7 linked regions of the Homo sapiens genome follow. The protein of the gene in region 7 purifies or fractionates together with the protein of the main gene of each other region. This does not show direct contact. Each region holds a gene or a part of one and is shown on either strand. Other genes may lie near its edges. The genes, in order: P4HTM, MSLN, RIPK2, SEMA6B, ADPGK, OMA1 and GXYLT1.

Region 1 (4,694 bases), on a different chromosome or scaffold from region 7:
CATTCTTGTTACCCAGGCTGGATGCAATGGCACAATCTTGGCTCACCACAACCCCTGCCTCCTGGGTTCAAGCGATTCTCCTGCCTCAGCCTCCCAAGTAGCTGGGATTACAGGCATGTGCCACAACGCCCTGCTAATGTTGTATTTTTAGTAGACGGGGTTCCCCCATGTTGGTCAGGCTGGTCCCGAACAACCTGACCTCAGGTGATCCACCCGCCTCGACCTCCCAAAGTTCTGGGATTACAGGCGTGAGCCACCGCGCCCAGCCTTGCTCAAATATTTTTTTCAGGCAGGTCCACCTTGGCTACCTTATTAAGGGTTCCAGCCAGGCATGGTGGTTCACACCTGTAATCCCAGCACTTTGGGAGGCTGAGGAGGGCAGATCACCTGAGGTCATGAGATTGAGACCATCCTGGCTAACACGGTGAAAGCCCGTCTCTACTAAAAATGCAAAAAATTAGCCGGATGTGGTGGCGCATGCCTGTAATCCCAGCTACTTGGGAGGCTGAGGCAGGAGAATCACTTGAACCCGGAAGGCGGAGGTTGCAGTGAGCTGAGATCATACCATTGCATTCCAGCCTGGACAACAAGAGAGAAACTTAGTCTAAAAAAAAAAAAAAAAAAAAAGAGTTCTAATCCCAGCTGAACTTCTGCCTTACTGTCTGCTATTTTTTTTTTTCTTTGAGATAGGGGTCTCTCTCTGTTGCCCAGGCTGGAATGCAGTGGTGCGATCTTGGCTCACTGCAACCTCTGCCTCCTGGGTTCAAGTAATTCTCATGCCTCAGCCTCTTGAACAGCTGGGATTACAGGTGTACACCACCACACCCGGCTAATTTTTGTATTTTTAGTAGAGATGAGATTTCACCATGTTGGTCAGGCTGGCCTCAAATTCCTGACCTGAAGTGATCTGCCTGCCTCAGCCTCCCAAAGTGCTGGGATTATAGACATGAGCCACCACGCCCGGCCCTGTCTGCTATTTTATGTTGGCAAAAAAGAAAAAAGAAAAAAAATCTGCCTTACTTGTTTGCAATCACATATCACCATCTGACACACCAATGTATATATTTATTTGTTTGTTTATTGTCTGTTTCCTCTTCATTTGAATGTCAGCTTCAGGGTTTTGTTTCATTGTTTATATTTAGTTCAATGCTGTGTTCCTGGCACCTAAAATAGTGCCTGGCACAGACTTCAACGTTACTCAATAGTAATAGTAATAATAACAACAACCAGCTTTGGGTGCCTCTCCCACAACAGGACTGACAGCATAATCTATTTCCCTACAAACAGCATGCATATGACATCATTCTGACAGGTCTAGGCATAATCCCCAACCAGGACCCTCTGCCTTGGAGGTAATGACTTGTGCTCAGATGTTCTACTTTGGCCCCAGCTCCTAACCCATTCCATCCCCCGGCAGGCAGGAATGGCCCTGGGTTTGCAAATATGTTTGTCACGGAGGCCAGGTACCCAGGGCTGGGCTACACAAACACCCTGGACAATGTCCATGGGACTAGGGGTCCCCACCCAGTTGACACTGGTGGTCTTTGAAGGACTCTGGGGTCTTCACAGCTCGCACTGTGGCTTTACTGCATAGGCCTTAGAGGCAGGCTATGTGGGTTCTAATCCTAGCTTCACCACTGAAGTAACCGTGTCAGCCTGGCCAAGCCACAGCAGCTCTCTGTCCCTAACTTTCCCCCTCACTGGCCTGAGTAGGATCTACACCCACTTCACAGAGGGGTTGCAGGAATTAAATGAAATAATCATATGAAGGCAAGCACATAACTAGAGCTCAGAAACGATGAGCTATGTTGTGGCTCCAACTGGAGTCACCCTAGAAAGCTTTGCCCATGATGGCTGAACAAAGACTTCACCTTAAGAAGAATCTCAGAGTGCTGGCAGCAAAAGCTGAGCCTCTGACTGGTACTCCAGTGGAGGAGGCTGGGGGGGTACCAGTTTATCTACATTTGGACGGCCTGCTTCTCATCAGACCACAAGGCCCACTTCGGCAGTGGGATTTTCCCCAGAGGTCCTGAGGTCGGCAGAAAGCTGGTTATCAGTCTCCCACCTTCCTCCCAGTTCTAGAAGGTGACAGAATTAATGGTGGCACGGAAGACAGGTGCAATGAAACGTTTAGACACCAGCCTCAGGCTCACCCTGCCAGCCCTGTGATGGAAGAATGGACTGCAGGGAGTTGGGATAAGAGGGAGTGTTACCCTATTTCGAGGACGGGGAAGGTCCTTCACTTTGGTAATCCTCTGGAAGGGCTGCTCTGAAGCAGCCATTTTCAAAATAGAGGTCACGTGGTCACAACGAGCCTCAAGGTGGCCACCAAACCGCAGCCCCTGGCCCTTCCCAGGAGTATCTGGCGGACTTACCGAAGAGCAGCGGCTTGAGGCTGAGGGTTCGGATGAAGTGATCCCTGTCGGTGACCAGCTGGACCTTACGCTCGTGCCCCACCTAAGGAAAAGGCGCACAGCGGGCAGCTGGGGCGCCAGACCGCGCTGCCCAAGAAGGGCCAAGTCGCCCCGGCCCGGAGAGCGACAGCAGGCGAGTGAGTGGGAGCGCGCGGGACCGACGCAGAGCAGCGCCGGGGGCAGCGTGGGGACCCGGGCTGAGCGCCGGTCCTCTCGGGCTCAGCCGTGCAGGGCCTGGAGCGCGGCGGGGCAGGGAGGTCCTCACCTTGATGCCCTCCAGCCGGGTGAGGGGACCTAAGGTGGGCTCGGGCCCGGGGCCCTGGGCACGGTGTTGGGGCCCGGGATCGCTGCTTTCGTCGCCGTTGCTGTAGTGCACGAAGAGCAGCAGCGCCAGCACGTTACCCAGGTACAGGTGCACGAACACCATCAGCACCAGGAAGTAGGCGCGCGAGCAGATGCCGCGGGGCTTGCACAGCGGACGCACCGGTGCGTCCTCGCCGTCGCCCAGCCCGGCCGCCGCCTGAGCCTGGCAGTGGTCTGGCGGCGCCCACTGCGGCCTCGAGGCCTCCTCGGCCGCCGCGGTCTCAGGCCGCTGGCCTGTCACCGCCGCTGCCGCCATGGCACCCAGGTCGCGCGCGCGCCCAGGGGAGGGGCCGCGGGGGTGCCCGCGCTGCGCAGTCGCCCGGACAACGGCCGCCAGGCCCGCGAGCGCCGCGGTCACTAGGAGACGGTGCCTGGGGGTGCTGAGCCCGCCCGGAGCCGCCTGCGTCCGCGCCGGGCTCGGCCTTCCTGCGCCTTGAGCCCCAGCCCACGCTGGGGCTTCTCTTCCCAAGCTGGGTTGCCGTCGGGCAGAGCTGTACACTCTCCAAGTCAGAAGCCAAGGTCCCAAGCGTAGACGCGGACAAGAGCGGCACCATTAAGGCATACACTAGTGGGAGCTTCTCGGTGCCTGCGTGAAGACGCCCTCTTGCCTCCGGGAAAAGTATCGTCTGCATCTTCTTGCTCCAGGAGCGGGGGTGGGGAGCGCAGCGCGGAGGAGGCAGCGCTGAGATGACTCAACAGTGCGGCATTTGGGGGCGCCGCGGAGGCTGGGACTGCGTAAGCGGCGATAGGGTAGGACCCACAGCCTCCTCGCAGGCATTCTTGGAGCTCGGTTCCGCGGTCGGTCCGGATCTCCCGGGAAGTCTCGCCGGAGTCAGGCAGGCCTTAGGAAGAAGCTGCCTGATGTGCAAGGTTTCATAGGCCGTCAGAGGGGGCATCCTGGAGGAGCCCTGGCATCAGGAAAGTGAGCCCCCCATGGCAGCCCGCAGGAATGAACCAGTGCTCAGGTATATGGAACACTCCTTGCATCAAAGCTGGCACGTGTGAAGAGGCGGGAAGGGACTCTTCCATAACTGAGACACCATTACCTCAGAGAAAAATTAAACAGATTATCACCAAAAACGGGGGTGGGGGGAGGACATACCTACCAGTGGTCAAGTGCCAAGGCATCCCTGCTCTTCTAGAGCTGGTTATCCTCAGGAAGAGATTACTACACGCCCTCAGGGCAGAAGCTGACCCCCCTCCCCGAGGTGGACTTGCAGGCAAGAGCAACACTTTTAAGGCAGGTCACACTGGTGGTTTCTCCCTACCCTGGTTAAGACCCCCACTACCTCTACTCCCATCTCCTCTCCCTTCCCCATAGCAAAGCATAGTCTGCATTTTCTAGTCCCCTCAAGTCAAGGCAGGCCAGGGGCTCCAAGGGCAGGCCCACCTCTTTCTTCTAAGATTTTTTGTGTGTGTGTGACGGAGTCTCACTCTGTCGCCCAGGCTGGAGTGCAGTGGCGCGATCTTGGCTCACTGCAACCTCTGCCTTCCGGGTTCAAGCAATTCTCCTGCCTCAGCCTACCAAGTAGCTGGCATGCGCCACCATGGCGGGCCAATTTTTTTTTTTGTATTTTTATTTATTATTATTTAGTTTTAATTTTTTAATTATAATTTTTTTTTTTTTTTTGATACAGAGTCTCGCTCTGTCGCCAGGCTGGAGTACAGTGGTGTGATCTCAGCTCACCGAAAGCTCCGCCTCCCGGGTTCAAGCAATTCTCCTGTCTCAGCCTCCCAAGTAGCTGGGACTACAGGTGCCCGCCACAATGCCCGGCTAATTTTTATATTTTTAGTAGAGACAGGGTTTCACCATGTTGGCCAGGCTGGTCTCAAACTCGTGACCTCAGGTGTTCCACCCACCTTGGCCTCCCAAAGTGCTGGAATTACAGACATAAGGCACCACACCCAGACCAAATC
Region 2 (3,419 bases), on a different chromosome or scaffold from region 7:
TCCCCTCTGGGGAAACAGGGGAGGGTCTTCAGGTCCCAGGTGGGGGTGCCATGCTGTGTTCTCTCTGTCACGTATCCACGGTGCTTGCCAGTTTCCACGGTCCTTGCTTGCAAAGGGGCACCTGGACCTGCATGTGACTGGCCTGGGAGCAGCCAGGTCCAGGGAGCGGCAGAGCTGAAATTGCAGCTGGGTCTGGGAAGTAGATGGATGAGAAGCAGCCAAGCCCATGGGTCTGAGACACAGCCAGGCCTGGGAAGTAGCTGAACTCGGGGAGTACCTGGCCCAGGGGTAGCGGGACCTGGGAACTCCTGCTCCAGAGAGCTGGTCTGAGCCATGTTCAGCAGGCCCTGTGTCCCCAGGAGGCTGCGCCCCTGGACGGAGTCCTGGCCAACCCACCTAACATTTCCAGGTGGGTCTGGGGTCCTCACAGTCCTCAAGGGTGAGGCTCGAGGGGCCCTCGGGACTGAGGGTGGGCAGGGCACCCCATCCCCCAGCATCCCCTCCCCCTTCCTCCTCTGCTCCACCTCAGATCTGACTGGGCTCAGGACTGCGGGAGGGACTGACACCCCTCAGGTGATGGCAACTCCCGGCCCTTGAGGGCGTCACCTGGTCTTGGGGGGAGGTCTGCAGGGAGCACCAGGGTCCTTTGGGGAGAGGTGGGGCTGTGGGGCTTGGGGAGCACTGGGTGGACATTGCAGGGGAGGGGCGATCGTGGGTGCCCAGCCCGACCCTTCCTGCAGCCTCTCCCCTCGCCAACTCCTTGGCTTCCCGTGTGCGGAGGTGTCCGGCCTGAGCACGGAGCGTGTCCGGGAGCTGGCTGTGGCCTTGGCACAGAAGAATGTCAAGCTCTCAACAGAGCAGGTCAGTCTCAGTTGGGCTGAGGCAGGTGGGCACAGCTGGGGCTGAGGAATTCACAGGCAGCTCTGCAGTGCCCACCTTGCCACCACGGTCCCCTCTGTCCCTGCTGCCATCTCTCCCCGGCCAGTTCTTCCCAGAGTTCCTCTGGCCACCCAAGCTGACCACTGGGGTGCCTGTCCACGTCAGGGGCTGGCTCCCCAGGAGCAAGTCTGATATGACGCTGTGTGCTGGGCCCCCTCCTGGAGCGCCGTGGGCAGCCCTCCAGGCTCTGCCCCAAGGGTGAATCTTTTTCGGGGGAGTGGGTGAGATCTGGGGAAGGGGAGCGGAGCCAGGCACGGGAGCCCCCATCCCCCAGGGCAGCGCTGCAGGCGGCCAGAGATCCACTTCCACAGATTCTCGTGGCCAGGGCAGGGGTGTGTTGTGGTGGGCAGACTGGCCAGGCGACCCTGGCCCACCATGTGAGTGGCGGCTCGAAACGCTCTGTGCTGGACTCCCTGCCCCTGCAGCTGCGCTGTCTGGCTCACCGGCTCTCTGAGCCCCCCGAGGACCTGGACGCCCTCCCATTGGACCTGCTGCTATTCCTCAAGTAGGCCCTGCCCCCTGAACCCACCCCCCCGGCTTTTGCCGCCAGCCCTCAGCCCCCAACCCCCTGCCCCTTGCCTCGGATCCCAGGCCACAGCAGAGATGTGGAGGCCGGCCGGGCTGCCTCTCAGGGTGGGGACGGGTGTGATCAGTGCGGCCTGTCCCCAGCACCCTCTCTTCACAGCCCAGATGCGTTCTCGGGGCCCCAGGCCTGCACCCGTTTCTTCTCCCGCATCACGAAGGCCAATGTGGACCTGCTCCCGAGGGGGGCTCCCGAGCGACAGCGGCTGCTGCCTGCGGCTCTGGCCTGCTGGGTAGGGGCTGGGGCCAGCGCGGGGCGGAGAGGGCTCGGCAGTTCCAAAAGCGCTGAGGCCAGCCTCTCTGCAGGGTGTGCGGGGGTCTCTGCTGAGCGAGGCTGATGTGCGGGCTCTGGGAGGCCTGGCTTGCGACCTGCCTGGGCGCTTTGTGGCCGAGTCGGCCGAAGTGCTGCTACCCCGGCTGGTGAGCTGCCCGGGACCCCTGGACCAGGACCAGCAGGAGGCAGCCAGGGCGGCTCTGCAGGGCGGGGGACCCCCCTACGGGTAAGTGAAGGTGTCTGGAACCTCGAAGGCTCACCTGGCGGCGTGGTATCAGCAGCGTGAGGACACTTGCGGCCATGCCTCAAGGCCCAGGGTCAGTCACCCCCGCCACCACCCCTGCCAATGCCCCCAGCGTCCCCTCCACAGCCAGGGGGTACGGCCTGGCCTCTTCCCTCTCTGGGGCTGCACGTGGGGGGTCCCTGAGCTGTGTCCCGTGTCTGCACAGCCCCCCGTCGACATGGTCTGTCTCCACGATGGACGCTCTGCGGGGCCTGCTGCCCGTGCTGGGCCAGCCCATCATCCGCAGCATCCCGCAGGTGAGACCCCAATCCCCAGCCCGTGGGGATGCCCGGCCACCCGAGGCTCAGCCCAGGTCCTGCTCGTCCTCAGGGCATCGTGGCCGCGTGGCGGCAACGCTCCTCTCGGGACCCATCCTGGCGGCAGCCTGAACGGACCATCCTCCGGCCGCGGTTCCGGCGGGAAGTGGAGAGTGAGTGCCGTGCCCTGCGCAGTCTGGCACCAGGCTGGGCAGCACCCCTGGGGGTGGGCATCACTTTAGGGTCTCACCTGCCCCTCCCTGGCTCTGCAGCACATCCCATTATAATCACAGAGAGTGGACAGAATCCCTGTTTGCCAGTGGGTAAACTGAGGCACAGGGAGGGTCACAAATGGCCCGAGGTCTCATCTCACAGGAGGTGTGGGAGGAAGAAGGGGTCAAACGAACTCCGGCCCTGACCCCTGACCCCTGTGCCCTGCAGAGACAGCCTGTCCTTCAGGCAAGAAGGCCCGCGAGATAGACGAGAGCCTCATCTTCTACAAGAAGTGGGAGCTGGAAGCCTGCGTGGATGCGGCCCTGCTGGCCACCCAGATGGACCGCGTGAACGCCATCCCCTTCACCTACGAGCAGCTGGACGTCCTAAAGCATAAACTGGATGAGGTAGTTCATGACTCAAGTTCCCACCGGCCTGCTGTGTCCAAGCCATCCCCAGCCCCTCTGGGAGTGACATGGGCCCTCCTGGTCTCTTGGCCTGCAGCTCTACCCACAAGGTTACCCCGAGTCTGTGATCCAGCACCTGGGCTACCTCTTCCTCAAGATGAGCCCTGAGGACATTCGCAAGTGGAATGTGACGTCCCTGGAGACCCTGAAGGCTTTGCTTGAAGTCAACAAAGGGCACGAAATGAGTCCTCAGGTGACCGTCCGGCTCGGGGGTCATGTGGCATGAGATTGGGAAGGGCTGAGGGGCAGAGTGGGGGACAAAGCCTGAGGTTGGGCGGGCCTGGGGTCAGGGGCACGGCCTGAGGTTATGCTGGTGGTGGAGGGATACATCTCTCCTTGCCACAAGGCTCCTCGGCGGCCCCTCCCACAGGTGGCCACCCTGATCGACCGCTTTGTGAAGGGAA
Region 3 (4,105 bases), on a different chromosome or scaffold from region 7:
TGCTTCTACTGAAAGTACAAAACTGTTCTTGAGAAGTTTTTCTGCAAATGCGTCAGCTTATAGTTCAGTGATCAATCTGGCAGGGGGAGTGGTTCAAAATATTTTAGACTGTTTATGATACATCTTGAGTTTTCTCAATGAATTTTGTGAGGTTGGGGGAGGGCACTTCAAGATAAATCCCACCCTAAATAATGCAATACAGGAAACCAAAAGAAACACAAAAAGCTGACGTGGAACATTACTTTCTCTGGCATACACAGAGGCCTGTCCCCTAGAGAAACTTAATCTTTTAATCTGTAAAAAAGGTAACTTTTTCTGAAAATTATGCAGTTTAAAGCAGTTACCAGGCCTCTCTGCAGCATAATATAATATGGGGGCTTGTGATCATGGAGACAAGGGAGAGAAGTGCTCACTGTATATTTTATGATTTTTTTTCCAGGAGTTAGCAATCCCCCTTGAGGAGGCTGTAGAATTTCCAGCGAGCTGCAAATTTGGGTGCCAGAGTATCTGCTGGGGTGTGGGAAGAAAATGTTAGATTTCTACTTATACTCATTTCTCAACAAAAATAAAAGAGAAATTGTGATTTATTAATATTTGTATCTTGGCTCTGTGGTAGTTATACAAATCTTACAGACTGACACCAGTTACTTATTCCATCCTTGTTTCAAATGGTCACAAGTCATGAATAGAATGTGATGTATTCTGAAACTGAGAGGAAGTTACTCTATGACTGACTGACAGTGGCACCCACTTTCCCTTGGCCACTTACAGGGCATTGTGTTACACTATCATTTATGAGTATCTATTGATTGGATTTTGTAGATTAATACAGTTTTAATTAAGCCAACCCTCAAAAAATGGACCAAGTAGTTTAAAAAGATCTACTGAAACTACAGACTCATGATAATATTAATAATGAATACATGTATTTTGAGAATGAGGACCCCTGAATTTGTTTACTCAAGGGATTCATAATCAAAGAGAGAGTGACTGGTACCTTGGGAAAAAGGGTAAATGGCTGATACCACTGTCTATTATTAGAAAAGCTAATGTATCTGGTATTCAGAGATAATTTATTAATATTTGGCCTGCTAATTCAGAACTTTATGAACTGGTATTAATAACATTAAATTTGAATTTGAAATTGCTATTAATATAAAATAAAATATCACTTAACAGTGGATTTTACAGTATGCAGAGTTTATCTCTTCCATTTCTACCCATGTAATATGCATGTAAATACTATAATTTGGTATAAATGTTAGGAATGGTAACCCAGGCAAAATAATCTAGAGTACAGGGCCTGAATCCACAGTGTTTTAATCAACACAAAAATGTCACAAAAGGTAAAATTTTATCCCTGTGATAGTTTTTCATTATTCTTTGATTCATCTATATACCCCTAAATAATCTGACCAAATATAAAATCAAAGTAAAATATAGTTTGAATAGTAAAAATGGCAATTATGGCCACTAAAACTGTGTAATACTTACCCTATGTAGGAGTTCATTTAATGATCCATTTGGCATGTATTCAGTAACTATTCCCAAAAATTCAGGCTCATTGCAAATTCCCAAAATTGGAAGAATGTAACTAAATCTAGCTTTGTGTAAAATTTCAGCTTCTCTTAAGACATCCTTTCTTTCACTAAGAAAAAAAAATGCATAATTATTCAAGTAATAAAAAAATATACAATTATCATGCCTATAAGACTAAGCCTGGATTTTTTTTCATTAATTAGCTATGTGACCTCATGTAAATTATGCAACTTCTCTGCACCTTAGTTTCATCATATTTAAAATAGAAATAATACCTACCCTATATATTCCACAGGTCTGTTTAGAGACCAAACTAACTTCTATAAGCCATTGACAGGTAAAAGTGCTAAACACAGGTTTATTATTATTGTACTTATCCCAGGAATGGGAAAGAACATAGTATTAAATTTATAAAGTCTATCTATGTTAGAACAATTGGTGCTTGAACTAATTACATGATTAAGTTTACATTGTATTCAAATGAGCATGTTTTATTAGAATATTATATTAAATTTTATGGTTGCATACCATATAAACATTTTCCAAATATCCTGAATATTAAAACCTTTAAATGTTATAGATTCAATAGCTGCATAAAAGTCAGTAATATTTATAAATTATATACCAGAACTCAGGAAAAGATCACTGAGAACAGGTAAATGCTCAATAATATTAATAGACTGCTGGGGTAACTGGCTCCCAGGTTCATTTGTTTATTCATATGTAAAACAAATATATATTTAACTATTTTTTTTTCTATTTTTCTTTGTCACCCTGGCTAGAGTGCAGTGGTGTGATCACAGCTCACTATAGCCTCAAACTCCTGGATTCAAGCCATCCTCCCACCTTAGCCTCCCCAGCAGCCAGCTAGCTCCACAGGCATGCAACCGTGCCTATTTTTTTTTTGTAGAGACAAGGTCTCACTATGTTATTCAGGGTGGCCTCAAACTCCTGGGCTCAATTGTATCAGACGTCCAATAGGTAGGTATCAAATGATTTCAAGGAAATTAAAGGGAAGGCTAAAGTTGGGAAATTGTGAATTGTTTAATGCACTCCTTTTATGTAATATAAAAGGAGTGAAGGTGAATAAGACAGGTTAGGGACATATCTCAGTCTTAAAGCCTGGTTAGGGTGGTGAAACTTCACTTAGCAGTCACTAAGTGATTGACGGTTTGTTTGCTTTTTTTAACATACAGAATACACACTGGAAACTTTTTTTTTTTTTAACAGACCAGATCTTGCTATGTCGCCCAGACTGGCCCTCCCTACTCTGCCTCTTGAGTAGCTGGGACTACAGGGGTGTGCCAATGTACCTGGTGTGACTGAAAGTTTTTGAGTTGGGGAATGACAGTAGAATACAATTTTAAGATGATCAATTTGGCAACAAGATGTAGGATTAGTAGAAAGTGGTAGAGTTTGAAAGTCAGGTGTTAGGAGATTTTAATACCAGTTAATACATGAACCTAAAACTACAAAGGTAGCAGTGGAAATGGAAAGAAAAACACTAAGTGAATAGAATGCCCGCGTTGTAGTGACTGACTGTAGGGGGTTAAAAAAAAAATGAAAAGGAATTGGAGATGTCATTATTTTTTTACCCTGAGTGACTGGATGTTGGCTGCAGCAATGACAGAAATAGAAATGTTTCCAGGAGAAGCCTATTAGGTAAGTAATGATGATAAGTTAGTTCTTACACCTCCCAAGCTCTGAATGAATGGCTGTTGAAATATGAATAGCAACAGACATTCTAGACCAGACTAAGAGGACTACTTTTAAAAACAAACAAAAAAACAAAGCAAAAGAATCTTCGTCATTTATTTTTTGAATAGGTCATATATTTATATGTCTTAAAATTCAAGAGTAACAAGAAGGCATAAAGTGAAAAGCTTCTCTCATTCTCTGTCCTTCAATCACTTAATACTCCAACTGCTAGGAAACCAGTATCAGTTTGTGAGACCCATTTTAATTAAATGTTTATTCCCTAGATGGAAATAGTTCCATATCTGCCCCAAGAGATTTAGGCCAACAATAGAGGATGACCCTGAAGATTCCTGGATACTAAGAACAATAGAGAGTGCATGCTGCAGAAGTCTCAGTGACACTTCACACACTCTTTCCTCCTCCCATTAAGAGGCATTCTTCTTTCCACTGTGACCCTATTACATGTCAGTCACTTTATATGCACTAGCATCTTAAGATCACCCTCTAAACATAGTTTCATTAGCTCCACTTTATAAATGAGGGCACTAAGGCTCAGAAAAATTAATACTTTTCTAATGGTCACACTAATAAGTGGCAGGGTTGGCGTCAGATTTGAATTGCAATCATGGGACATTAAAGCCTGCATTCTTTCTACCCTATTGCTTGATCAAAGAATATAGTAGGAAAGTTCTTGAAGGTAGATTTTTGGCAAGATTGAGTGAGTGGGAAATTTTTTTTAAAGCCAAAAGATTTTAAAAATTGATTTTTACATTTTGAAAATAAAGGTGTAAAGTACAGCTTCCATAGTCACATCACCAAAATTAACTCAAAAATTTAATCAGAAAAGTTATGTCATCTACAGGGTATT
Region 4 (4,105 bases), on a different chromosome or scaffold from region 7:
GCCAGCCCTGGCCACGCCCCAACCCACCCCCAATCAGCCCTGGCCCCGCCCAACTGCCAGCCCTGGCCACACCCCCAAACAGCCATGGCCACGTCCACGTCCCCACCCAATTGGTCCTAGCCCGGCCTCCAGCCTAGCCACAATTATCCATAACCACGCCCCAAATAGTTCTGGCTATGCCCACACTTCTGCCCCTGTCAGTCCTACCACCACCCCCAGCCTCGTTCCAACAAGCCCAGGCCATGTTCACACGCCACCCAATAGCTCACTCCCCACCCAATCGATCAGGTCCCCATCCCGACCCCTCCCCTATCAGTCCTGCCGCCCCCCACGCCCCCGGCCCGCCCCAATAAGCCCAGGCCACGCCCACCCCACCAGCTCTGGCCACGCTCCCAACTTGGCCCCAATCAGCTATAACCGTGCCCACCACGCCCCAGTTAGTTCTGGTCACGACCATGCCCCACCCCAATCGGCCGTGACCACACCCAGGGCGGATCCTTCTCCTCCATCCCAGGTTAGGACTCTGCTATTGCCATGGTTATGCCCACAGTCTGACAATGCCCACCATCCTGGCCTTGCCTGCGTTGCTGATACAAAGTGTTTCCCTGTCTGGGTCGCACCGTGTCCCCAGCCAGTCCTAGGTTCAGCCCCTGCCTTGGCCATGCCCACAACAGACCGGCCCTCCACCCACACAACTCAGGTTCTGGCCACGCCCATCACCATGACCACGCCCACATCGCGCTCCCCGCTTCCTCCTGTCCCCACCTCAGGGCGAGTGTCGAAACTTCGTAAAGGTGCTGCTCCTTCGGGACGAGTCCACGCTCTTTGTGTGCGGTTCCAACGCCTTCAACCCGGTGTGCGCCAACTACAGCGTGAGTCTTCAGACTCCCTGCGCCCCAGGTCCAACCTCCAGGCCTCTGCTCGCCCGACCTCCGCTGGCCATGGCTTTTCCCCAGGCCGTGTCACCTCCTCCAGGAAGCCTTCCTGGATATACTCTCCCTGCCTCCTCCCCCTGAGCTCAAGAGGAGTCAGCGCTGTCCAAACGAGGCCTGTACAGGGGGCCGGGGAAGCCGTAGCTACTTAGGTAATGAGCCAGTTACAGGTCTAACTAGGCATTGACTCTTAAACCCATTTACAGATCAGTAAACTGAGGCCCTGAGAGGTTAAGTGAGTGGCCAAGGTCACACAGTAATCCGTGGTGGATCAGGATTCCCCCTGGAGTGGGGGGCTGAGGGAGCCAGGGGCTGCTAGGTGGGGTCAGGAGATCTGTCACTCAGGCCCCATGGTCCCTGCAGATAGACACCCTGCAGCCCGTCGGAGACAACATCAGCGGTATGGCCCGCTGCCCGTACGACCCCAAGCACGCCAATGTTGCCCTCTTCTCTGGTAAGTACCCCCCCAACCTCCATCTGATCAGCCCCAGCCACAGGCAAGACCTGGCATTTTCTACTCCAGCGTCTGGGTTGTTTAGAAGGCAGCTGGACGACCACTTGTCCCAGCTGTGACATGGGCAGACTCTCAGCCCAGGTTTGGGGCTCAGCTGGGATTGAGGCTCAGCGGGATTTGGGGCTTAGCCGGGGTCAGGGGCTCAGTTAAGGTCAGGGCTTGGATGGAGGTGGGGCTTGGATGGGATCAGGGCTCAGCCTGGAGACAGGGGCTCCCCTAGGCTCAGGACTCAGTCTCAGAAAATCGAGTTTCGACCCACCCAGCCCCTGGCCTCTGCGGTCTCATCTCTTGCCTGCCTTCCCCACCCACCCCATCCAGACGGGATGCTCTTCACAGCTACTGTTACCGACTTCCTAGCCATTGATGCTGTCATCTACCGCAGCCTCGGGGACAGGCCCACCCTGCGCACCGTGAAACATGACTCCAAGTGGTTCAAAGGTGAGACCAGGAAGGGCAGTGGGCCCAGACCTGGCAGGGCCCAGAACCTGACATTCATCAAATCTCCCCACCAGAATAAGAGTCCCAGAGGAGCTTGGTGGAGAGATTTCCACCACATCTTTGGAATCTGTTGGCCTTTTTGAAGACTAGAAAGCTAGAGGAACAAGTTTAGTTGGATCTAAAGTAGAACCCGCTGGAAGTGGGTGGCTTAGAAGCCCAAAATGGAACCACAGAAAAGATATAGCAGGACTCAGCTCTTCAACACATGAGGGAGGAAGATAACAAAAAATAGTTGATGTTGCCATTTGCAGCAAGAGACACAGCGATTTTAGGCTTCTGACCTCCCTTCCCCTGCAAAATACCAAACTTTGAGTCTGTTTCATATTGTCTGGGTAACCAGCCTATGTCCCCCCTTCACCATAAAAGCCAGTGAGTTCTTAGCCCCAGAAACCCCCTTTGTCATGTCAGGGGCTGAGTTCTGACCCCTCCTGTCCTGCAGAGCCTTACTTTGTCCATGCGGTGGAGTGGGGCAGCCATGTCTACTTCTTCTTCCGGGAGATTGCGATGGAGTTTAACTACCTGGAGAAGGTGAGGCCGGTGCAGTGGGGCATGAAGTTGAGAGGCTCTGATCATGCGAAGTGAGGGGGCAGAGGTGGATCCATGAATCCCTGCATGGGGTGAGAGGGTCCTGCCCTCCATTTCTGGTCCCCAGGGCCTCCTTTCCAGCCATGATCAGGCCCTGAGGCTGAAGACATCTACGGAGCAGCCGTGGAGCACTCAGCCCTGACGAGGGACTTGAGTTGGAAGTCAGATACACCTGGTGCTGTTGCTGTTCACCTGTCCACCCACCCACCCAGCCACAATCACTTATCCATCCTTCATCCCCTGTCCATCCGTCTACCTGCTCACCCTCCCACTTACCCATCTGTCTGTTCTTCAGCCCACCCACACTTTCATGAGCCCATTAATCCATCTACTCATCTGCCCACCCACTCACTCATCCACCCACTACCATCCATCCGTGCACTCATCCATCTGTCCATGCATCCATCCACCCATCGATTCATCTAGCCACCCTTCCATCCTATCCATCTATCAGTCCATCCACCTATCCATCCATCTATCCATCATCTGTCCATCCATCTGCCAATCCATTCACCCATCCATTCATCCATCCATCCATCCCATCCACCCATCCATCCATTTATCTACCCATCCACCAACACACCCACCCACCCACCCACCCATCCATCCATCCATCCATCCACACATCCATCCATCCATCCAGCTGCCAATCCATCCACCCATCCATTCATCCATCTACCTATCCACCCACCCATCCATCCATCCTTCATCTATCCATCCATCTGCCAATCCATCCACCCTTCCATCTCATCTATCCATCCATCTCATTCACCCACTCATCATCTATGCACCCACCCATCTATCCATCCATTTATCTGCCCATCCACCCACACACCCATCCATCCATCCATCCATCCATCCATCCATCCATCCATCCATCCACTCACCCATCCAACCATCCACCCATCCAACTCACCTATCCATCCATCCATCCATCCATCCATCCATCCACTCACCCATCCAACCATCTACCCACCCAACTCACCCATCCATCCATCCATCCATCCATCCACCCACTTATCCATCCATTCATTCATCCACTTATTCACCTATCCATGCATCCATCCATCCACTCACCTAGCTTTCTCTCTATCCATCTGTTCATCCATCCACCCACACATCCATCTACTTATCTACCAATTGCTTGATTACCTTGTTCTCCTTCACCATCTCTTCCATTATCTATCATCCTTCTTCAGATGTATTTATTTATCCATCCACCTACTCATCCCTCCATTGTAATCGTCCGTCCATCTACTCATCCACTCATCCGTCCATCCAGGCAACCAGGCAGTGCTGAAGTGCACAGACTGCCACTAACTACTATTGTGACCTTGGACCAGTCACTTCCTTTTATCTGTGCCTCTTATCAGTGTCCCCACATGTACAATGGGGGGATATCAGTAGGCCCCCCTCGGGAAGAGTGTAAGAGATGTGAGAATAAAATGTGGGTCTTCGTGGAAACAGTGATGATTATGGTTGTCACTGTTGCTATTATCATCATTGACATTCCCACCGGGAATTTCTGCCAGGGAAGCCGGTGCCCAGAGAGGAACGGTGACTGGCCGGGGTCCCA
Region 5 (4,105 bases), on a different chromosome or scaffold from region 7:
CTGAATTCAGGTGGGACAGTAATAGCTTTTTAGAGATAATTTAAAACTTTCTGTGATATGTAGGCTGAAATTTGGCCCTTTAACATGTCAGCCTTAATGTTTTATTCAACCACGATAGTTAGAATTTACTAAAAAAAATCTTGGGAAAATAGTAAGATATCTACAAAGTGGATTTCAGAATTTTCATATAATGTTTATCAACCTGCCTTAAACTATAAGGAAGTATGAAAAGGCACTCCTCTAGTGAAAGGGGTTTTACAATGTTAAGAAATAACCTGGACCATCACAAAGCTAGATCAAGTTGCTGTAAAAATTTTTTTCATCAAGAAATAAAGGCAGAATCAAGAGAGAAGAGAAATCAAACTGGTGGTTTAAATTCCGTAATCATAAAGACTTTTGAGCAGTGAACTCATCATGTTAGAACTATCGAGATTCTCTCATAAGAGATAAGAATCTCACTACTGATCCCAGTTGTCAAAATGATAACTGAAATCTTAACTTGCTGTCACCTTTAGAAACTCAGCTAGGTAATGCCTATGTCCATTTCTAATGTTCAAATAGGCAGCTTCGAAGACAAAAAACTTATTTTTAAAATTTTTTTGAGACAGGGTCACACCCTGTTGCCCAGACTGGAGTGAAGTGGCACGGTCATGGTTCACTGCAGCCTTGACCTCCCGGGCTCAGGTGATCCTCCCACAGGCACATGCCACCATGCCCAGCTAATTTTTTGTATTTTTTGTAGAGACAGGGTTTCACCATGTTGCCCAGGCTGGTCTCAAACTCCTGGGCTCAAGCAATCCACCTGCCTCAGCCTCCCAAAGTGCTGGGATTACAGGCGTGAGCCACTGTGCCCGGCCTAAAATCTTAAGTCATCAAAATAAAAGTAGTCACAAAGGTTTGCCTGTGAAAGGTGCCAATTAAAAATGGCATTAAGAGCTTCCCTGGCTAGAACTACCAAACCAGACTGGGTGCCCAGCCAAAGGGAGGTTTAAATGAGGAGGAAGAATGGGGTGGGGGCAAGACATGGGAGATAACCAACCAACCAAAACTCAGCCTCAAGAGGCATGAGGGTACATGTAGGAGCAGGCATACTGGGGTGAGGTAGGAAGAGCCATGGTTGGGTCTCCAGCCCCAGCACTGCCTCTTATTCCACGTGAACCTCCAGGAAGTGCCTGGACCATGCAGGGCTTTGTATATAATCACCAGGTGAACTTGGAAACCACTAAGGTTCTAACTTCGACAGGTTCTACCTTGCAGACCAGTGGTTCTCAAAAGGAGGTTCTCAGACCTACAGGATCAACCAGGAAACTTGCTGGAAAGGTAAATTCTTGGGTCCCATCCCACATCTACTGAATCTGAACTCTGGTAGTAGGCCCAGAAATCTGTGTTTCAACAGCCTCTCCAAATGATTCTGACACATGCTCAAGTCTGAGAACCATCAACCTAGACCCACAGTTTTCAACCAGGGGTGATTTTGCTCCCCTCCTCTTCAAACTGGAATGAAAAGTTGCTTGCTTGCTTCTAGGAACCATATTAAAAAGGCATCTTTTTCCACCCTTAATTTACTATTGCTGAACCAAACAGACCTGGGCTCCTGGGAACTCTGATGCAACCTGGGCAATGTCGTGAAAAGTTTCCTTATCACTGAAGAAGCGCTCAGCAGCTGCTCCCTTCCCCATGAAGTGAATGAAGGCTTCTTCCAGATCATTCCTTGAATGCAGAATGCTGTGATCTTTCCCATTCCCAGGACTAAGGCCAAGTGCCTGCAAGAGCTTCACCCCTGAGAGCACCACATCAACACATGCATTGACTCTAGAAGGAGGAAAAAAACTGTGTGAAAGCAGCAGAAGCACCAAGTAGCCATTTTGCATTTAACAAAAGGAAAATGTTTCTCAGAACCTTATTCAACAGAAAAAACAGGAAGTAGGTCTGAAACCTGAATTGGGAAGTAAACAGCACATGGCAGGAGAAAAATTACTTTAACTGGATTTATGTATTAGCATCAGAACACAGGACTCTTCAATAATTTGGCAAACTTTTACACTAGTTACAAAGTGAGAAGATAGGTGCTTAGCATTTCAGAACAAAGCTACTGTAACAAAAATGTAACATTTCTGAGAAAAACGCTGGCAGAGCCAAACAGGATTCATGCTGGCCGTGTGACTTGGGCAAGTCACTAATTTCTCTGTGCCTCGGTTTCCTCATCCACAAAATGGCAATAATATGAGCATTTAACTCATAGAGCTATGGTTAAGATTAAATAAGTGAATGTATACTTAGGAACAGCAATTGGCGCAGAGTAAGCAAAATATGTGTTTCAGTCAAAGGCTAGGTATCAGGCATCTTCCCTCTAAAAACAAATGAGGATGGTAAGATACAATAAATTCCTAAATGCCTGAGTACTCCCAGCTGAAACCCTGCCTCTTAGAATTTAGTGGTGTTTTACAGACTTAGGCACACCTGCAGCATTTTAAGAACTCACCCTTTGGCCAGTGTTCACAGGACTGACCCATGAACGTTAAAGACCTGCCACTCCTGGTTGTCTCGATGGAAATTATAAAGTACAGGTTGAATCCCTTATCTGAAGTGCTTGAGATCAGAGTGTTTCCGATTTTGGAATATTTACATATACATGAGATATCTTGGGAATGCAACCCAAGTCCAAACACATTTCATATATACTTTATACATACAGCCTGAAGGTAACTTTATACAATGTTTTAAATACTTTTGTGCATGAAATAAAGTTTCTATTCCTTACGTGTGGGTGGAATTTTCACATATAAGTACTTAATATACATCAGTGGCATCATGTCAGTGCCCCAGAGTTTTGGATTTCAGAGCATTCTGGATGCTCAACTTGTACTAAGGTTGTCTGGCATGACCTCTCCTATGTGTGTATGGAGAAAGTCTGTCTTACATTTTCAGGGTTTCTTTGCTAAGTCATCCCTCTTTTAAAGAGAACGTTCAAATAATTAAGGTAGCTAGATGAGGTCTTCCCGCCCCTACCCCTATCATGGTCATCTTTATTCCTGCCTCTGCCTATTGGGATGTCATTCTGGCCAGTGAGGTTGGATTACCACACAGGCAGCTCCCAGCCGGCAAACTGAGACCACCCCTAGTGATACGGGTGACTGGGCTTCAGAGTTAATTCTGAGCAGCTCTGAAACCACAAGGTAAACTCATTAATAAAAATGTCCCAATGGATGAGATTTTGGTGTAAAATACATAGTTGTATTTCCCTTTTAGTCTCTTTCAAAAATGAAGAGGAATGAGACTGGGATGAAGAGGAATTTTACCAGGTATATTTCTACTTTTAACATGCTTGTATTCCTTTTAGAATTTTTAAAATGACATAACTTTAAAAAGGTTTGTATGCAGACTAGATATTATTTACATCACTTAAGGAAGATTTACAAGGGCAAGGAAGAGACATCCTCCCTCAAGACACAAAGAGACTGCATCCTCATTATAAGGGTCCTTTTTATTAATTCTTCCCCTAGGGATTCATGTTTTGAAAGGAGTTTTGCCTATCAAATAGCATTTAAATACTCAGTTTCTTGTTCAAGACACACATAATGACTCTGGTCAACTGGAGAAGCATAACCTAAGATTTACTATGCCTTTCAGTGCATAAAACATCTAGCTACTGTATTTGGCCCTTCTCTTTAAAAGAGGGATGATTTCTAGTAAAGAAACACTGAAAATATAAGCCAGAACTTCTCCATGACACACACAGAAGGGGCCATTCTGGACATGCACGTGGCAGTTGCTTAAAGATATGTTTAAAATCTTTCCTTTCACAACCTTCAATGTTAAGAAACCAAACACACCTTGCAAACTGGTCTCAATTTTACCTCAGACATGGTGCCCTTTATTTCTAATGAATGCAACATTAGATTGGTAGAATCAACAGGAATACAAGTATCTGTAGCTCTCAGACGCCAGTAGGTTCCTAAGTTTCAGACAGTGAGGGCTTGAGTAAGGAGGGATACCATTTCCTCCAGACAGCCCAGTCTAAAAAAATTGTATCCAAATGGATTTGGGTCCCGAGTCTGAAGAGTAAAGGTTCAGAAATGGAGGGAAACCTGTCTTTGAAAATAAC
Region 6 (4,105 bases), on a different chromosome or scaffold from region 7:
CACAGTTGTGTCTATTTGGCTTTTATAAATTACCCTGCTATAAAAACTTTTCTTTAAAAAAATCTTTTCTCACCTCCATTTGGAGATATGTGAAGTCTAACACCCAAAATAGAATGATCTGATCAAAGAGTAAGCACAGGTAGATTATACTTTTTGTTATATAGGACCAAACTGCTTTCTACCAGAAAGGCTTTATCAACCTTTAATGTCACCAGTAATACAGGCATACTTGAGTTATTCACAGTTATTCACATAACATTTCATGACTTTTATATAGATAATTACATAATTTCAAACCTCAGAATCCTTAGAAAATATCAGCTCAATTTTACAGATGAGGAAACTGAGTCTCAGAGAAGTTAAATGCCGGGCAAGGAACAAAAAGCTGGCTTGGTAAATGTTTTTAACAGCTTTATTTGCTAAAACTTGGAAATAACCAAGATTTCCTTCGATAGGTGAATGGATAAACTGTGGGATATCCAGACAAAAGAATATTATTCAGATCTAAGAAGAAATTAGCTATCAAGCCATGAAAAGATATGAGGAACCTTAAACGTATATTGCTAAGAGAAAAAAGCCAATCTGAAAAGGCTACATGATTCCAACTATATGATATTCTGGAAAAGGCACAACTATGGAGACAGTAAAAAGATCAGTGGTTGCCAGGGGCTAGGGGGAGGGAGGAATGAGTAGGCACAGAGTGTATTTTTATGGCAGTGAAACTACTCTGCATGATGCTATAATGGTGGATACATGTCATTATACATTTGTCAAAATGCACTGAATGTACAGCACCAAGAGTAAACCCTAATGGACTTTGGGTGATAATGATGGGTCAACATAGGTTCATCAATTGTAACTAATATTATCACTCTGGCATGGGATTTTGATGGTATGGGAGGCTGTGAGTATGCGGGGACAGATGTATAAGGGAAATCTCTATACCTTCTACTCAATTAAAAGTTGAAGCTTTAGAGTCTAAAAATAAAAGAGTCTACTACTAAAAAAAAAAAAAAAAAAAAAAAAAAAAGCTGGCCTGGAAGTAAAAAAGCTGGGTTTAGAACCTGTTTTGTTTCTACCGCTTTTGCTCTACATGCTTTTTGTGCTCATGCTTTTTTGTATCACATGATATTTCTTGAGTAAATTTTTTACTGAATAAATGTACTTTGGAGATGTCTGAGCTAGGTTTCTTTAATTGCTAGAAACACTATATGTTCTTCATACAGGTTTTCTATCACTACTTCTTCATGTGTGAACTGTTTCTCCTCCCCAAATATCTATCAAGCAGAATCCTGTTATGACCATACATATTTCTATCAAATCTTCATCTACTTTGCATAGTAAGATTCTATTGGATGTCTTGGTAACTTATTTTTTCTTTTTTCCTTTCCTTTCCATATTCATTTTATATATTTCAGGGCGCCAATGTCTTTTTATTTTTATAAATTCTAATCTATCTTATTAAATATATCTTCATCTCTTCAAAAGTGAGCAAAATTTTCCTACCATATAGCTAGAATATGTCTTTCCACTTCCTTTACTTTGTTTTCTGTGTTTAACTCCACGCACTGCACATAACAGGCACTTAACAAACGCATGCTAAATTTTAAACAAACATTTATAGAACACCAGCTATGAATAAATCATTATGATAAATGTCATAGAGAAAATACTCTTAGGAGTTTATGGTTTAAGAAAAAGCAGGAATGTATTTTAATAGCAAGAATATATGGTTCTGAGAATCCTGAGGAAGATTTGAAGTTAAATATAGAATTAGCCAGCCTAAAGACTACAACTATGAGTGAAAGAAACTAACATCTACTGTTCACTTTCTATGTGCCTTTCACTGCGTGAGGTATTTTACACATCTAAATTGACATTGGAATTTGAACCACTTTTGAAATCTTGGGCCTGACATAAAATACTTATCATTAAAATGTCTATGCCAAAGAGAGGGGGACAAGGCAAAGAAGACAGCAGGACCTTACCTACAGAAATGCACAAGTATGTACATCCAACATCTAGGAGATATTGCTATCCTGATTTCACATATGAAGAAAACTAAAGGTTGGATTAGGTAACTTTCTCCAAGTTACATGGCTGAGTCAGAATTAAAACCGAAGACTCCTAAGACCACTGTTATCTTTATATTACTATTTCCTGCGACCATCTTTCTCCCGTTACCAACTATTAATGTCCTACATGCTAAATTTCTATAAGGGAGTGGAAGGACTGTTCAATTCTACTGCCAATTTTTCTATTTTTCACCCACTATTATATTGCTTATCCTGCCTATTATTACACATCATGCAATCATTTAACTAATATTCACTAATCATCTCAACTTCTCATAGGTACTATGGATACAGCAGTGTACAAAGGCCTTACACACTAGGGTAAAAGCCAATAAACAAATAAGGTAATTTTAGTTAAGTACATGAAGAAACTAAAGAGTGAGGTGTGTTGGACGGACAATGAGTACATGGAAGGGAAGCGATTTAAGATTATGGGATCAAAGAAAGCCTCCCCAGGACAGTGACATTTGCCTAAAGAACTGAGGGAAGAATGTTTCAGACAGAGAAATCAGCAAGTAGAAGAGCTGTAAGGAGGACACTAGCTTAATGGGGGACATACCCTGGTCTTGTATGTTTCCTAAACCAAGGAAAGCCTAAGGAAAGGGGCATGTGGTGAAGTTGGAGAGCTAGGCAGTGGCCAAATTACGTGCCTGGAAGACATAGGAAGAGTCTGGATTTTTATTCTAAGTTAGATGAGAAGCCACTAGAGGGTTTTAACCAAGGAAAGGACATTACAATGATCACTCTGGCTACATATTGAAAATAGGTTGTTAGGAGTTGAGGTGAAACGTGACATCGTGAGGTGAAAAGTGACAACAGGAAATGACTGCGGTAACTTGGGAGGAGATGATGGTGACTTTTACTAGGAAAGGAGCAGTGGCGAAGTTGAGAAGCCCACAGATTCTTAATGTACTTGTTAAAGCAGTCAAGATTTTTTCATGAATAGGACACAGAAGTGAAGGAAAGAGGAACTGAAGATGAGTCCTAAATTTCCTCTTCTGTTTTAATAGCTTTTCTTTTATGATGCTGCTCATGCATTTGAGGATAATTAACTTGCTCACAGTAAATAATTACTGTAATATAATATCGTATTGTCAATTAATGACCCCAGTCCATAAATTCTTTTAAAGTTATTGTTTTTATCAAATTGTCAAAACAAAATCATTTATGCTTGTAAAATGAATCAGAAACTTAATAACATACCTTTCTACATTTTGAAGGTAGAACTAATTAGTAACTAGGCAATTGTTCTCTGAACTTCTGAAAAAATTCTCCAAATTAAATCCCATCAGGGCTAGGCGTCCTTTTCTTTGCTAATTTATTATGACTCTATGGGTTCTAATAGTTTTTTAAATTTGATTTATTTATACCTTACTTCTTTCTAAAGTAATTTAGTAATTTGTAATTTGTAAATTAGTAATTTGAGAAGCTTCATTCTAGCTATAATTTCTACTCCTAGCTGCATCCACTCTAGCAATTCCCCTCCCCCCTCAACACACATATACTTTAATTACTTCTGATTTTGACCTGAGCTATTAATTAACATTATCTAACTAAAAATAACATTCTCCCAAATATTTCAGTTTTCTTGCATGTTACCGTACCTCTTCTCCTGATCCTATTTACATTTTACTTTGTCTAACTAATCTAATGATTATGACTTTGACTAAATTTCCCAAAGAATCAACTACTGTCATTTTGCTTATTTCTGCTTAATTTTATTAATTATATTTTCCCTATTTGAGACATTTATAGTTCTATATTTCTTTTCTCTTTTTCTAATATAGACATTTAAACTGATAAAGTTTTCTTTAAATACAGATTTAGTAAAAACTCATGAAAATATAACTACATCATTATAAAGTTCATTGATTACAAGCCATCCTCTTATTGTTTATAGATTTCTCTTTTGCTTTACATGTGCGGAATTTTAATTTTCATGTGGTTATCCATCTTTTAATTTTTGTTATATTAATTTTACTATACTATGTTCTGATGATTGGAACCATAACTTTGTTTTATTTATTTAT
Region 7 (4,105 bases):
TGAGCCTGGGAGGTGGAGGTTTGCAGTGAGCCAAGATTGTGCCACTGCACTCCGGCATGGGTAACAGAATGAGACCCTGTCTCAAATAAAAAAAAGTTATGGTAATATTAATAGATATCCTTATCTTCATTTTAACTGGAAAGCTCCTACTGTTTAGCCATTAAGCACAATGCTGCCTTTTGAAATGAGATAAAAATATAATACTAATAATCTATCAATTTATATTTTATGCTTTTTTAAAATAAAAAAGATACTGAATTTAGTGCTTTTTCAGATACTGAATGTAATGCTTTTTTCTTAATGCTCAAAACTTGTTATTTGAAAACCCAAAGTTAAATACTTAAGGGAGCAAGAAACTGAGTCCAATGAGAACTTGGTGTTGGAAGGGGTAGAAGTGAATACCGGGCCTTTTAGATCTATGTGACTCGGGGACTATCCAGAGTAAAAACCAGTATTCTTCATAGTGCAGTTCACAGCAGTTCACATAGTGTGCTACTATGTAAATTTTTTCTATGTCCTCAATAAGATTAAGTAATTAAGTATAGAAATTAAGAGTAAGATTTAGAAACTTTTACAGCAAGTTAACAGTTTTATGTGTACTTAATATATTTCTCTAGTAATCTCTCTTTTACAAAAGTATTGGCTCATAACATACTGAAAATTTTTTAAAAATTAATCTTTTGCCATAGTTTGAGAAACATTGTTATAAGTCATTTTATAATTTATATTAAATTCAGTGACGATATAAACAATCTATCCTTTAAAAAAGAGAAGGCCAGAATTCATGAAAAAAAAAAAATCCACATACTTAAATTGATGTGCTACAACTGCATTATTATCCTTGTGTGAAATTTCTTAGAACACAGTAAATAGTAATTATAATCAGAATTTTTTTTAATCTGGAAAATGACTAAAACAAGTTTTACTTAAGGAAACAATTTGAAAAGATAACTCTTAGAAATAAGTCATTGAGTATGTTAAGGAAATATTCTTAGGATCTGAAAAGAAAAATATCAATTACACAAGGACAAAAACCAGGAACACTTTCAACAGACAGAACTGGTGGAGCCCTTGTACAACACCATGTTAAAGTCTTCATGTGATTCTATCTATTCAAATATACACAGAAATACAGATACATATTTAAATTATAAAAACCAATATAAATCAAATATATATATTTGAATATATATCTTACAAGAAATGTACCTATTCAAAGAGCATCAATGAAATACAAAATTAAGAGTTCACTGCAGTCTTAGGAAAAAAATAAAAAGGGAAAAAAACCTTAAAGAAAAAAGTCCCATTAGAAAACTATTTGGAAAAGAAGCGATAACGCTAGTATTATTTGCTAATGATATAACCTAGATTATCCAAGACAACCAATGAAAAGCTATGAGAAATGAGTTTAATAAAGAGGTATTACATATAAAAGGAGTTCAAGTCAATAAGAAAGAGAAAACCAAGAAGTGGGCAAAGGATATGGGCAAGCAGCCATTCACAAAAGAAGAAACAGAAATGGCTACAAATTATAAGAAAAGATTTTTAACCACACCGGTAGTATAGTCAAGAAAATATGAATTTTAAAATATATTTTCAGCCATACAACTACATATCCATACTAGGTACACACAAAAAGAGAAAATAAAATCATCCATTCTCCACATCATACACACATTAAAAATGTGATTATGTGTAATGACATAGAAGTCAGTCAACTATATATTTACTAAATGAAAAAAGCTGAAGATGTATAAAAGAATCCTATATCTAAATGCTAATGCACACCTATGCTTGTTTCAAAATACTTTTTTTTTTTTTTGAGACAGAGTCTCACTCTGTCGCCCAGGCTGGAGTGCAGTGGCGCAATCTTGGCTCACTGCAACCTCCACCTTCTGGGTTCAAGTGATTCTCATGCCTCAGGCTCCCGAGTAGCTGGAATTACAGGCACCTGCCACCATGCCTGGCTAATTTTTGTATTTTTAGTAGAGATGGGGTTTCACCATATTAGCCAGGCTGGTCTAGGACTCCTGACCTCAAGTGATCCACCTGCCTCGGCCTCCCAAAGTGCTGGGATTACAGGCATGAGCCACTGCACCCAGCCTCAAAATGCACTTTTTAAAAGGTCCAAAGAACACATAGCCAAGTTTATAGTGTCACTCTGGGTGGAGGCATGAAAGTGTGAAGAGATATGTCAAGGGGAGACCTGTCTTTTCATTCTACATAAAATTACTTTTTTGAATCTTTATAAGCACAATTTAGTTTCATAACATTTAAAACAGAAAACTGTAGTTCTAATTTTACAAAATTTAGCAAACCTATGACCAAATACATGTATGTTACATCAAGATCAATTAGTTTCATTTTTTGAATTAAGCATGCTTTGAAAATGAATGGACTGTCATTATCAGCCTGTCCTATACATACATATAAAATTAAAGCGCATTCACATTATGCTCCAACAAAAAAGTGGGAACTCATCAATTCCCAAAGATTAGTTACTTCACTTTAAAAAGTTCTACCCCTTTGGCAAGATGTTCGTTGTTGTTATTCTGCTCTCATAAGCTATGTACTAACACAAGAAAACTCTTTATCACATACATCTTACAAATATGTAAAAGCATTGTATCTACTTCATACAAAGTGTTCCCTTTTCCAGTATTTTTCAATTCATTAATGGCCTAGTTTCTAAAACCTTCATCTGACTCTCCTTTGCTAGCAATTATCTATCAAGTTGCTACTTTATGTCAGACACTGTGCTAAATATTCTTAATATAAAGCTGTATAAAAGACACATCCTGCCCTCAGTAGGTGGAGCAAACAGACAAAAAAATACTCTACAAAATAATATATAGAAAGCTGAAAAGGGCAGAGTAAACAAAGAAAAAATTCCCACCATGTCTAATTTATACTCTTTGGTTTTTCTCTAATAAACAGGAAAAGGCTAAGAAATACAGTAATACATTTTTTAGAAGGAGAGAAAATAAATACCCTAATAGGGATTCAACACGGCAAATACGATACTGCAAAATAGAACGTAATCATTTAACCAATGTTATTCATTATCTAGCAAATATACAATTATGAGATTAAAAATTATGATTTTTAAAAAGTTGTATTTAATATTTAATTTAATTTAATAATTATTTCATTAAATTAAATTATTTGAATTTAAATTTTTTAATTTTTTTTTTCTTTTGAGACAGAGTCTCACTCACATTGTCACTCTGTAGCTCAGGCTGGAGTGCAGTGGCCCAATATCAGCTCACTGCAACCTCTGCCTCCCTGGTTCAAGCAATTCTGTCTCAGCCTCCCAAGTAGCTGGGAATACAGGCATGCACCACCATGCACAGCTCATTTTTTCTATTTTTAGTAGAGATGGGGTTTCACTGTGTTGGTCAGACTGGTCTCACACTCCTGGCCTCAAGTGATCCACCCACCTCGGTCTCCCAAAGTCTTGGAATTACAGGCGTGAGCCACCACACCTGGACCTATTTTAACTTTTTAATATACATAACTATAATACACCAGGTTCGAAATGAACAGCCACAAGTAGTAAGAACCAGGTGACAGCAAGGCAAATAAATAAACTATGACCTTTGTCCTAAATTTTTATTGTGGCTGTACATGGGTTAAGAACCATGAAGCAACAATCGTGGATCTGTATAAAACAGTTTGGAAAGTGATTATAAGTAACTCAGTTATATTGCTAAATTTCTAAAATTTAAGATCTGTGCTAGAAACTGTAAAACTGGTAGGAAAAACCAAGACAATGTTTTGCTATAGATATAAAGATCAAGAAAAATAAAAATATATGAGAAAAGGAATTAACAATCAATAAATTTTGCAGGACCATCTCGACAATCCTAAGTATAATAAAATATTTGAAAACAAAGCAAATCTGAGTATGTTCCCAAGGAGCAAGAACAGGGTTGTTTGTAACACAGGAATAGTAGGTGTGAAGTAAATTATACCTGCCAAATTAACATACAACCAATCATCTTGTGTTTTTTTTCACAGTCATTAATGTGCAGAAGAAAAAAAGGTTTGAAAGTTTAGAAATTATTCCAACTCCCATAACTACACCTCTAGGTAGCTTAGAACA

Evidence for each region.
Region 1: the proteins of GXYLT1 (region 7) and P4HTM purify together in Homo sapiens (affinity purification with mass spectrometry; one large-scale study listed by BioGRID and IntAct). This does not show direct contact.
Region 2: the proteins of GXYLT1 (region 7) and MSLN purify together in Homo sapiens (affinity purification with mass spectrometry; one large-scale study listed by BioGRID and IntAct). This does not show direct contact.
Region 3: the proteins of GXYLT1 (region 7) and RIPK2 purify together in Homo sapiens (co-immunoprecipitation; one large-scale study listed by IntAct). This does not show direct contact.
Region 4: the proteins of GXYLT1 (region 7) and SEMA6B purify together in Homo sapiens (affinity purification with mass spectrometry; one large-scale study listed by BioGRID and IntAct). This does not show direct contact.
Region 5: the proteins of GXYLT1 (region 7) and ADPGK purify together in Homo sapiens (affinity purification with mass spectrometry; one large-scale study listed by BioGRID and IntAct). This does not show direct contact.
Region 6: the proteins of GXYLT1 (region 7) and OMA1 purify together in Homo sapiens (affinity purification with mass spectrometry; 2 studies listed by BioGRID and IntAct, with this or other methods). This does not show direct contact.

The regions. Positions count from the first base shown.
Region 1 is NC_000003.12:48,988,596-48,993,289, reverse strand, and holds the start of P4HTM (transmembrane prolyl 4-hydroxylase), read right to left. Parts: upstream 3,050-4,694; 5' UTR 3,034-3,049; coding exon 2,680-3,033; intron 2,458-2,679; coding exon 2,376-2,457; intron 1-2,375. UniProt on the Homo sapiens protein: Catalyzes the post-translational formation of 4-hydroxyproline in hypoxia-inducible factor (HIF) alpha proteins. Hydroxylates HIF1A at 'Pro-402' and 'Pro-564'.
Region 2 is NC_000016.10:763,283-766,701, forward strand, and holds part of MSLN (mesothelin isoform 1 preproprotein), read left to right. Parts: intron 1-359; coding exon 360-409; intron 410-740; coding exon 741-861; intron 862-1,364; coding exon 1,365-1,444; intron 1,445-1,624; coding exon 1,625-1,754; intron 1,755-1,827; coding exon 1,828-2,021; intron 2,022-2,244; coding exon 2,245-2,335; intron 2,336-2,408; coding exon 2,409-2,508; intron 2,509-2,776; coding exon 2,777-2,955; intron 2,956-3,052; coding exon 3,053-3,208; intron 3,209-3,361; coding exon of another isoform or gene 3,362-3,385; coding exon 3,386-3,419. UniProt on the Homo sapiens protein: Membrane-anchored forms may play a role in cellular adhesion. Megakaryocyte-potentiating factor (MPF) potentiates megakaryocyte colony formation in vitro.
Region 3 is NC_000008.11:89,760,372-89,764,476, reverse strand, and holds part of RIPK2 (receptor-interacting serine/threonine-protein kinase 2), read right to left. Parts: intron 1,649-4,105; coding exon 1,495-1,648; intron 1-1,494.
Region 4 is NC_000019.10:4,552,755-4,556,859, reverse strand, and holds part of SEMA6B (semaphorin-6B precursor), read left to right. Parts: intron 1-770; coding exon 771-872; intron 873-1,295; coding exon 1,296-1,386; intron 1,387-1,764; coding exon 1,765-1,884; intron 1,885-2,383; coding exon 2,384-2,472; intron 2,473-4,105. UniProt on the Homo sapiens protein: Functions as a cell surface repellent for mossy fibers of developing neurons in the hippocampus where it plays a role in axon guidance.
Region 5 is NC_000015.10:72,773,286-72,777,390, forward strand, and holds part of ADPGK (ADP-dependent glucokinase isoform 4 precursor), read right to left. Parts: intron 1,813-4,105; coding exon 1,587-1,812; intron 1-1,586. UniProt on the Homo sapiens protein: Catalyzes the phosphorylation of D-glucose to D-glucose 6-phosphate using ADP as the phosphate donor. GDP and CDP can replace ADP, but with reduced efficiency.
Region 6 is NC_000001.11:58,484,227-58,488,331, forward strand, and holds part of OMA1 (metalloendopeptidase OMA1, mitochondrial precursor), read right to left. Parts: intron 1-4,105. UniProt on the Homo sapiens protein: Metalloprotease that is part of the quality control system in the inner membrane of mitochondria. Activated in response to various mitochondrial stress, leading to the proteolytic cleavage of target proteins, such as OPA1, UQCC3 and DELE1.
Region 7 is NC_000012.12:42,099,768-42,103,872, forward strand, and holds part of GXYLT1 (glucoside xylosyltransferase 1), read right to left. Parts: intron 1-4,105. UniProt on the Homo sapiens protein: Glycosyltransferase which elongates the O-linked glucose attached to EGF-like repeats in the extracellular domain of Notch proteins by catalyzing the addition of xylose.